Linked DNA regions of Homo sapiens: region 2 is linked to region 1. The links come from fine-mapping of genetic effects on gene expression. A gene starts in region 1. The other region holds a variant in brackets. All regions are shown on one strand. Distances are between the middles of the regions. Region 1 holds the start of SIK2 (salt inducible kinase 2). Region 2 overlaps SIK2 (salt inducible kinase 2).

What was found. PIP is the estimated chance that this variant, and not a neighbour inherited with it, causes the effect. A credible set is the group of variants that fine-mapping cannot tell apart.
Region 2: its variant is the best candidate, but not a certain one, in a credible set for the expression of SIK2 in whole blood (INTERVAL, PIP 0.72).

What each region holds. Positions count from the first base shown.
Region 1 is chr11:111,600,057-111,605,441 of GRCh38, reverse strand. It overlaps SIK2 (salt inducible kinase 2), which reads right to left and starts at 2,993. Exons shown (of 15, transcript NM_015191.3): 1 at 2,744-2,993. The coding sequence starts at 2,878. RefSeq lists silencers at 2,228-2,387, 2,938-3,377 and an enhancer at 3,468-3,607.
Region 2 is chr11:111,621,004-111,626,388 of GRCh38, reverse strand. The region is part of intron 3 of SIK2 (salt inducible kinase 2); the gene reads right to left. Among named protein-coding and RNA genes, the nearest start is that of SIK2, 21 kb to the right of the region's middle. The variant T/A (reference allele first, on the strand shown) is at 2,166.

The sequences.
Region 1 (5,385 bases):
AAACTGAATTTAAAACAAAAGTTTTAATTAAACATCTTATAGTTTTTAAGGTAGTTGTATTTATCAAAAACACACAAACATTTATCCAGTGAATGAACGAATAAGGATAAATAACTGCTGTAAAAAACATCATTAACAATGGAATTGTTACTCCCATGGAATACTTTAAGAAACAATTGGGCCAGGCGCGGTGGCTCACGCCTGTAATCCCAGCACTTTGTGGGGCCAAGGCGTGTGGATCACTTGAGGTCAGGAGTTCGAAACCAGCCTGGCCAACACTGTGAAACCCCGTCTCTACTAAAAACACACAAATTAGCCGGGCATGGTGGTGAGCGCCTGTAATCCCAGCTACTTGGGAGGGTGAGGCAGGAGAATCGCTCGAACCCAGGAGGCAGAGGTTGCAGTGAGCCGAGATCGCACCACTGCACTCCAGCCAGCCTGGGCAACAAGAGCGAGGCTCCGTCTCAAAAAAAAAAAAAAAAAATTCAGAGCAACTTTACAACCTAGAGATCCAGAGAACTTTTCTGTTCAAAGATTGCTTTGACATTTCACTTATCCCTCTCTACCTTAATATCTCCAATCACACCCACCAAATTACCACAGATACCCTCACCCATCTCAAATTCACACTATTTCTTTTTATATGTTAATAACAGCTTCTTTAGAAAAGCACAGGGAAATGGGTTCTGCGGACTAAACATTTAGCTTTTAACGTAAATCATTTTACACATATATACTACACACACGATTTAGGATCTAAGTCCTCTTTCACGATCTGACCGGTGCTTGTTCCAATTACAAATGAATGCATTGATCTCACTCTGATAGCCAAACCACGGTATTACTCCATAGTGCCCCCTAGCTCTTTAAGATATATTAGTTTAAAACGGACACCATTTGAATTGTCAACCTCAAAGTGTCAATCACTCCACTTAAGCAGCTCTTACTGTATTAACTAAATTTGACCTGATAAATAATAGATGACTTAATTAAATCTTGCTATTAATCCCAGTAAGAGCTGATGAGAAAAAAATATTAAGAACTGATGGATTTGGAATTCAACCACACGATATACTACAGTTCAAAAGTTTTGTAGAACCTCTCTATAACTCACAATTTGTTTGTTTTTAGAAAGTCATTAAGCAAGGACTCATAAAACATGCATTTAAAATGCCTTCTTTTATGTAACTTAAAGGGAAATGGCATGGCATAGGCCATGGCTCTTCAGAGGAATGGAACCAATTTCTTCATTTTAAAAAATGCTGGGATCAGATTAAGATTTAACAATATCACTATAGTCAAGTTATCATTATCATTACAAACAATCTAAATTGCTAACTGGTAAATCTGTGAGAAGAAAATATCTGACCTTGGTCCTGATTCTAAAAGATAAGTCAGATTTGGACTGGTTCAGGACCAGCAGGGGAAGGCAAAAAGTAAAGAAGACAGAATGACATATACCCCTTCCTTTTGGAAACGGGATTAAGCAAAACTTCTAAGTACAACTGCAACTCCAAAAATCACTCACGTTTGCAAGTGCCCTTCGCCTTACATAAGTCATTCTGAAAAGAAGTCCTACTTTATTCTACACTCAAACTCCAGTACATTCGTACTAACAAGGGAAAAAGCAGAATAGGACCAAAACTGGAGGGCAAACAAACAGGAAAAGGATGAAACTCCAGGAGGAACTACAATAAGGCAGAGTAGAGTACGTCAAAACCACTAGGTTTTATTCTAAAGAATGGTTTTGTTTCTACCGTTCTTCTAAGGTATTTAATTTGCACGTCTTAAAATAGAGACCCTGAGGAGAGCAGCTTGAGGCAGTGGAAGGAAGGGGGGCGGGTTAGGTAAGAACAGAGACTTGTGAGAGAGTATGTGCGGTGCATTAGAATGTGCAATGAAGAGGGTGCAGGATTCACCGTCAGGAAGCAGTTGAGGGCTTTATGAGTAGAGGCAGAATCTGATATGGTTTAAAGAATGCGTATTACAGCCAGAATGCACACCTGGTACAGTGACAACCCTAGACAAGTAGAAGACCAATCCACCCACCGTGCAAATGCAGAGATGACCATTTTAACCAGTTCTATTGTCTGGGGCATTAAATGGAAATGCCCCAGGCAAGAGATCAAGCTAGCCAGACACCAAATCAGAGACACCCTGGGCCAAAAGGAAGGAGAGGAGATGGACAGTGGCCGTGGGGGTATTCCCAGCCATGGGGCCCTTCCTCGTCGGGCAGGGGAGGGGCGCCGGGGTCACGGGGGCCGCACGATCCCCCATCCGCGGAGCCCAAGCGCAGGCGGTCCCCTCCTCGGGCCGGCGACGTCTCTCACGGCGCAGCCTGGGAACACCGAGACTTCCCCTCCCACCCCACCCCCAGCCGAAAGCAGGGAAGACGCGGAACTTGGGCTCCGGAGCGGAGGCCACAGACCAGGTCACGGCCCGGGTGGGGGGCTCTGGGCGAAATTCCGGGTGGCCACCGGGGGTGGCGTAGGGGAAAGCAAAGCCCCGGCTGGTTGCGTTTCCAGTCGGACGACACTCGGGTCCGGGTGCCCGGGCCCGATCCCTTCGCTGCTCACCGACCCCCTGCACCTCCTGGGTCCTCACAGTCCCAGGCCCGCTCGCCTCCGCCAGTGAGGCGGCCTCTCGGGTCTCCCCGGTCCCACCACTGCGGCCGCCCCTCTCGGTAAGCAGCTCCTCTCCCGAACCCTCGCCTCGGACGCTCCCGCCGAGCCCCGGGCCGCACCTCCGTCTTGGTGATCCGGTGCCGCCCCAGCTTCACCACAGCGAAGTTGCCCTTGCCCAGCGTGCCCTCGATGTCGTAGAACCCCACCCGGACCGGCCCGCGCTGCAAGTGCCTCGGGCCATCCGCCATGACCATGCTGGGCCCCGCTGCTAGACACGGCGGACAGGAGCGCGGGCGGGCGGGAGGGTTGGCAGCGCGGCTTGGCTTGGGCGACGGCCGCTCCGCTTGCTCCTTCGCTCCTTCGCTCCTTCCCTCCCGCTCCCCAGGGCCCAGCCAGGCGCGCGCCGCCGCTGACGTGCGCCGACGTCAGGGGGCCGGGGCAGGGGGGCGGGGGCGGGCCCGAGCCTGGATTGGTCACCATGGCGACCGAAGCACCGCCGACGTCGGCTGCTGGAGAGTGGGGGACGGCGCACGGGGAGGGGCGCGAGCCTGGCCGGCGCGCTCCTTCCGGGCTCAGACGCCCTCCCCTCGCCCCTCCGCCTCACCGCTGCCAGGGGCGGGGTCGCTGCTCGGCCCGCTCCGTTCCTCGGCCTTCCAGGCGAAGGGCAAGAGCGAGCCCTGGCGGACCGTGCGGAGGGGTGCAGAGACCTGGATGCGGCCTGCGATCTCCTTCCCCGCCCCGGCGTTCTCCGCCCACCCGGGGTCCTTCCCGCCAAAACCTCTCACCTACAAGTACAGCGCGTCCTAAATTTGGCACCGGCAAAGAACTGTGGCTGAGCAATGCGTTGCTCACAGGCTCCTTTCTTTGTGTCCTTTTCTCTTCTCGTTGCTATATATAATAAAACCCTCCACGTTTTGATGTCTCCGAGGAGTCATTCTGACAGCAGTGCAGTCGCTTATAGACTCACAGAATGTCAATGTCAGCGCTGAAGAGATCTTGGAGATCACTTAATCCAGAGATTTGGAGCCTCATGTGAGCTTCAGAGTTTGGAACCCCCTAAAACACAGGCCAGTTTTTGCTTATGTGAGCATGTCTCTGGGGAGATGGACCCGTAGCTTCTGTCAGATTCCCAAACGCGTTGGTGACTCTGAAAAAGTTTAGAAATATTTCTCTAATCCAATTTTTTTCCCCAAAGGACGAAGAAGACCTCAAGGAATAAAGGGAATTGCCTAGGTCACACAGGCAATAGTCGAGGTAGGATTATAAATCACACCACGCTTCCAAATGTGACTCAAGGAAACAGGGACAGTGACACCTCACTATTTTGAGATGTATCATATGCCTTTATATCTTGGTTTCTAAATACCATTCTCCACCTAAAGGAGCCAGACTCCGTGGCGAGATGGCTCATTCGAGGGCAGAGACAGGGAAAGTATAAAATGCCCTTGAAAGATCCTGCTCCTTAAAGCAAGGAGATTTCTTGGCTATGTCAAGGAAGATATGTCAAAAGAAAGCAGATGGCTCGAAGGTGCTCCCCCCTTACCAAATCTGAGACAGTTTGAGTATCAGGAATAAATAATGGGCCGGGCTTAGTGGCTTACGCCTGTAATCCCAGCACTTTGGGAGGCTGAGGCGGGTGGATCACCTGAGGTCAGGAGTTCAAGACTAGCCTGTGTGAAACCCCATCTCTACTAAAAATGCAAAAATTAGCCGGGCGTGGTAGTGGGCGCCTATAATCCCAGCTACTCGGGAGGCTGAGGCAGGGAGAATTGCTTGAACCAGGGAAGCAGAGGTTGCAGTGAGCCGAGATCGTGCCACTGCACTCCAGCCTGGGCGACAGAGCGAGACTCTGTCTCAGTAAATAAATAAATAAATAAATAAATATAGAAATTGATTCTAACACATTGAATTTTTTAAAAGAATCGTAGAGCATACTTACTTTTAAACAGAAAAATAAAGAGGGGAGAAGTGAAATGACGGTGGAATGCCAACTAATATATGTTAGAAGAAATGACAATTAGCAAATCATTTGGCAGCCATTACAGTAATAATGGATTCAGACAATTATCAATAGATGTTAAAATCATTGAATAAAATTTGGCTGGGGAACAAGATATTTGCACAGTCTTTGGATTTCTTATTCATGATAAAGGGTTAACAAGGGTACCTCTACAGTGGAGAAATCTGACCGACACTACCCTAACCAAATGATCAAAGTTAATGTCACCAATTATGTGATAAAATGACATGATGTGCCTCCAGATGTGAGGCACTGAGGTTACAATATCTCTTAAGTAGTATTCCTGTCAAAAATGCATATTATGATCTAGAAACATCAGAAAGATGCAAACTAAGAAACATTCTACTCAACAACTGACCTGTATCCTTAAAAAACATCAGTGTCATGAAAGTCAAAGAAAGGCTGAGGAACCATTCTAGATTTAAGGGATTTAAAAAGGCATGGCACTAAAGGCAACATGTGGTCTTGAAAAAACATGCTATAAAGGAATATTTCAGAACAACTACTGAAATTTGAATATGGATTACATATTAGATAAGATACTGTTTCAGTGTTAAACTTCTTGAATTTTATAATTGTACTGTGATTATAAGAGAGAGTATCCGTTATTAGGAGATACACACTAAACAATTAGGTATAAAATTTTTGGCCGGGCGTGGTGGCTCACACCTGTAATCCCAACACTTTGGCAGGCCGAGGTGGGCATATCACTTGAGGTCAGGAGTTCAAGACCAGCCTGGG
Region 2 (5,385 bases), 21 kb before region 1:
AAAAAAAAAAAAAAGATCATGAGTTCTGCTGGGCTTCAAGCTGTATGACAAAGTCAAGGCAAATAAAAACAAATTGAACTAAATGATCTCCACATCTCCTTTAAATTCAGCTTCTTCCCTTCCAAACTAGTGAAGACTATCCAAAGATTTCATGATCTTTTTAAATTAATTCTATTACTCATTATCTTCAATGGTCAAGAAATTAACTGTACCCAAGAGTGGAAAATAAGATAATAGCATTCACTGTCCAACTTTTCTGTGGACATCAGATTCTTCTTTCCAGAACTCCAATTGACCATTTACCCTAGAGATTTTACTTTAAATATAAACCTTATACATTTAAAAATCCCCAAATTATGTCTCAATGTGTATAAAACAATGTAATCCAAATTTGTTTCAAAGATCTTAGCAAGAAAGAACAATTTAGACTATCCTATTTTCATAGAAATGATGCCTAACATGTAACAGCTATTTCTACTTTACTTGTAAAACTACAGTCCAAAGCTTTAAAAATGTTCCAATGGGCAAAGGCTTAAAAATCCTTCTCTTGACTCATTGCCTCTACCTACTACCTCATTTCTTTTTTCCCTTTTTGCAGCAGAACTCCTTGAAAGGGTTGTCTATTTTGCTCTCTCCATTTTTCTTCTCTCATTTGCTCTGTAAGCCCCTTCAATCTAGCTTTTGGCCCAGTCACTCCACCAAAACTGCTCTTACCAAACTGCAGTATACAATGGTCAACTGTCATTCCTCATCATTTTTGATCTATCGGCATCATTTGTCACAGATGTTCACTTGATCCTTCTGAGAATACTTTGGTCACTTGGTTTCTAGGATACCACATTCTCTTGGTTTTCTTCCTCCTCTGTCTCTTCTGCTAGTTTCTCCTCTTTTCTAAATCTTTTAATGTTTAAATGCCTCAGGGATCAGATCTTGGCCTCTTCCATAATTATACCTATTACTTAGGTAGTCTCCACCTGTCGAGAAGTCCTACTGATTGTACTTCAAAATATATTCTGAGTTTGACCACTTAGGACTACCTGTACTGCTACTCCCCGGTCTGGGCTGTCAACACCCCTCACTGGAACTACTCCAACAGCTTCCTACCTGGTTTCCCTGTCTCCACCCTTTCCCATTCTCAACACAGCAGCCAGAGTGATGCTTTTAAAATGATACATTAGATGCAGTCACTTCTGTGCTGAAATCCAGCCGAAAATGGTTCCCTAATTTTATTCATGTAAGAGTCAAAATCCTTCTAATGGCCTACACAATGCCCCCAAATCTGCCCTACTCCTGCCTCTCATTTACCCTCTGACCTCCTCTTCTACTGTTCTTCCTCCTTGCTCTTCTCTCTTGCTTGCTCCTCTTGAGCCATACTGGCCTCCCTGTTACCCCTTGGACACACCAAGCACACTGCTGCCTCAGGGATTTGCATTTATTCTTCCCTCTCCCTGGGTAATCTCTGTTCTACCATATCGACATGACTGTGCTTTAAAGTCTGTGCTCAAATGCCAGCGAGGCCTTCTCTGACCACTCTATTTAATGTTGCAATCAACTCCCATGCCTCCCAACCAACCAGCCTCTGACCACTCTATTTAATTTTGCAATCAACTCCCATGCCTCCCAACCAACCAGCCTTGCTTTATTATTTACATAGCACTCATCACTATCTAATCTACTACATAATTCAGCTATTTTGTTTCTCTCTCCCAAACTAGAATGTAAAAGAGTAGAGATTTTTGTCTATTTTCTTCATTGCAGTTTTCTTACCACATAACAGTGTGTGACAAGTAATTGGTTTTCAATAAGGATTTCTTGAAAGACTGAATAAATGAATGAATAAGTGAATGTAAGAAATAGGAAAGAAAGGCAAGAAAAATAAAATGAATAAAGAGGAAAAAGGGAAGAAAAGGAAAGAAACCTGCCCAAAGTAATGTTAACAATTAATATGGTATAGCCGGCATTGTAAATCAGATTTGCTTAGCTTCAAAGCCCATAACAGCCTATTATAGCATCAGTCAAGATGCTGCTAGCTAAAACAAATATTTTAAGAATTAAAATAAGCTTATTAAGTAGTAGCATATAAAAGAAAAAATTAAGCAAAAGAGGGAAACAGACAACTTTTCTGAAATACAATGAGTTTAGTCAGAACTATTTATTTAGAATCC[T/A]ACTGCAAATAGTGTATTTTTCAAAACTATAGAAGTGCATATGGTTCTTTCTCTTTAAAATACCTTAAATTAATAACACATTTGAAAGGACTAAATAATTCTGCTTTTGGCTAAGATAGATTTGTCCTCCAGCCTGAAACAACCTTCCCATCTTCAACAACAAAAATACAAAATACATGAGAGAATGGTTTATAAGACACTGGACATCAGGCAAAGGAAAGTGAACCCTGAGCAACAGGTGACAAATGAGGCGAGACCATGAATGTTCCAACTAATGCCTTGAGAGAATCTCTACGCCACAGCACAGGGAGGGGAAACCCAGGTGTGGCCCAGCAATGTCTTTGAGTTGAGTAGACAATGCTGAGAGTCCCAGATAAGAGTGAGCTACACACAGAAAGAAGTCCAAAGGTCTGCAGAGGGATCCGTCCCTTGAGCACTCAGGAGAGTGCTGATTGGCTCACGTGTGAGGGAAAACCACCAGAGGCCAGAGAAAAAACCATCTGAGAGGCTGAGAGAGAACACTGCCTGGTGCTTACACAAAGCCAGGAATGGTGCCTGTTCCTACTTGTCAGGCCAAAAAACCTCAGCATTCATGGGGCATTGAGTAGAGTACTCAGAAGTGGGAAGTAACTAGACCCAGACTGAGCACTGTTTCAATTATGAAGGCAAGACCCAAATGGATCAAACTGTTTCCAAGTAGGCTTAACTGCATCCCAGAACAAAGTTCAAGAAAACCTAAAGTAACACAAAAATATGTGGTGCTCAAGGTAAAATTGGCAATGTCTAGCATCCAATCAAAGACTACCAGACATGTAATGAAATAGGAAAATGTAACCAAAACTGAGGAGAAACATCAACCAATCAAAACCAACCTAGAACTGACAGAGATGCTGGAAATCAGCAGACATGGACATTAAAAATTATCATAACTGGATTCTAGATGTTCAGAAAGATCAGTAAAGACATGGAAGGCATTAAAAAACAGTCCTAGTCAAGTTTATAGAAAAGAATACTACAATGTCTGAGATGACAAATACACTGGATGGGATTAATGGCAGAAGAAAAGATTCGTGAATTTAAAGACAGAAATAGCAACTACTCAACATGAAATAGAAAAAAAGGAATTTTTTAAAAATGGAAAAGAGCATCAGTGAGCTGTGGGGCAATTTCAAACAGTTTAATATACATTTGACTGGAATATCTGAAGGAGAAGAGAGGGGGTGGAAGAGAAAAATTAGTTAGAAAATAATGGCTGAAAAATATCCAAATTTGATGAAAAGAGTATAGTCACAGATCCAAAAAGCTCAATGAACACCAAACATAAGAATCATGAAGAAAACCACACAAAGGCTCATCATAATGAAATTGTTGAAACCAGTGGTAAATAGAAAGCCTTAAAAGCAGCCAGAGAAAAAAGGCACATTATATACACAGGAATAAAGAAAAAGATAACAGTGGTTTTTTTGTCAGAAACAGTGCAAATGGGAAGACAGTGAAGCAACATATTTAAAGTACTGAAAGAAAAAAAGTCCATTTAGAATTCTATACCTAGTACAAATATCTTTCAAAAACAAAGACAAAAATAAAGACTACTTTAGACATATAAAAGCTGAAATATTTCATCACCAGCAGATCTGTGCTACAAGAAACACTAAAGAAAATCCTTCAGACGCCGGGTGCGGTGGCTCACGCCTGTAATCCCAGCACTTTGGGAGGCTGAGGCGGGCGGATCACGATGTCAGGTGATCGAGACCATCCTGGCTAACACGGTGAAACCCCGTCTCTACTAAAATACAAAAAATTAGCCGGGTGTGGTGGTGGGTGCCTGTAGGACCAGTTATTTGGGAGGCTGAGGCAGGAGAATGGCGTGAACCTGGGAGGCGGAGCTTGCAGTGAGCTGAGATCGTGCCACTGCACTCCAGCCTGGGCGACAGAGCAAGACTCTGCCTCAAAAAAAAAAAAAAAAAAAAAAAAAAGAAAAGAAAATCCTTCAGACAAAAGAAAAATGACATTAGATAAAAATATATACATACATATGAATGCAGAAATGGTAGCTGCATTGATAAATAGATGCAATTTTCAAAAAATATGGAAATCTCTTGAAAAGATAATTGTTTAAAGAAAAAGGTAGCTACACTGATAGATAATTTTCAAAAAATGTGGAAATCTCTTTAAAAGATAATTGTTTAAAGAAAAATAGCACTGTATTATGTTTTATAAAATACGTTTAAGTAAAATATGACAACAAGAACATAAAGGCCAGGAGGGGCAAAAGAGAAGTACACTGATGTAAGGTTTTTTTTTTTTAATTGAGATGAAATCTCACTCTGTTGCCCAGGCTAAAGTACAGTGGTGCGGTCGTGGCTCACTGCAGCCTCCGCCTCCGAGTTCAAGTGACTCTCCTGCCTCAGCCTGCCTAGTAGCTGGGATTACAGGCATGCACTACCACACCTAGCTAATTTTTGTATTTTTAGTAGGGAGGGGTTTCACCATGTTGGCCAGGCTGGTCTTGAACTCCTGACCTCAGGTGATCCACCCACCTTGACCTCCTAAAAGTGCTGGGATTACAGGTGTGAGCCACTGTGCCCAGCCAAGGTTCTTATATTATATGCGAAGTGGTAAGTATTACCTGAAGGTAGACTGTGTAGACTTGTATACGAATGTACATAGTAACTTATGTATAATAGCCAAAAACTGAAACCAACCCAAATGTCTATCAATAGATAGATGAATGAATAAGCAAACTGGGGTATATTCATATAATATAATACTACTTGCAATAAAAAGAAATTATATGTTGATATATACAATAAAATGGGATGAATCCCAAAATAATTATAGTAAAGGAAAGAAGCTAGACCAAAAAAAGAATATATCCTGTATGATTACATTTGAGTATATCCTGTATAATTCCATTTATATAAAACTCCAAAAGATACAAACTGATCCATAATGACAAAAAACAGGTCAGTGGTTTTTTGGGTGTCAGATGGGGCAAAAGAGTTACAAAGAGGGCACAAAGAAACTTCTGGAAGTGATGGATATTTTGACTGTGGTGACTGTTTCACAAACGTGTATCAAAACATTAAATTGTACGCATTAAATACGTGTAATTTACTACATATGAATTATTCTTCAATAAAGCTGCTTAAAAAACAATTTTGGACTTTAAGAACAAAAAAGATTTAGATACCTACAGTGCTCTGGTTCCACACAGTAA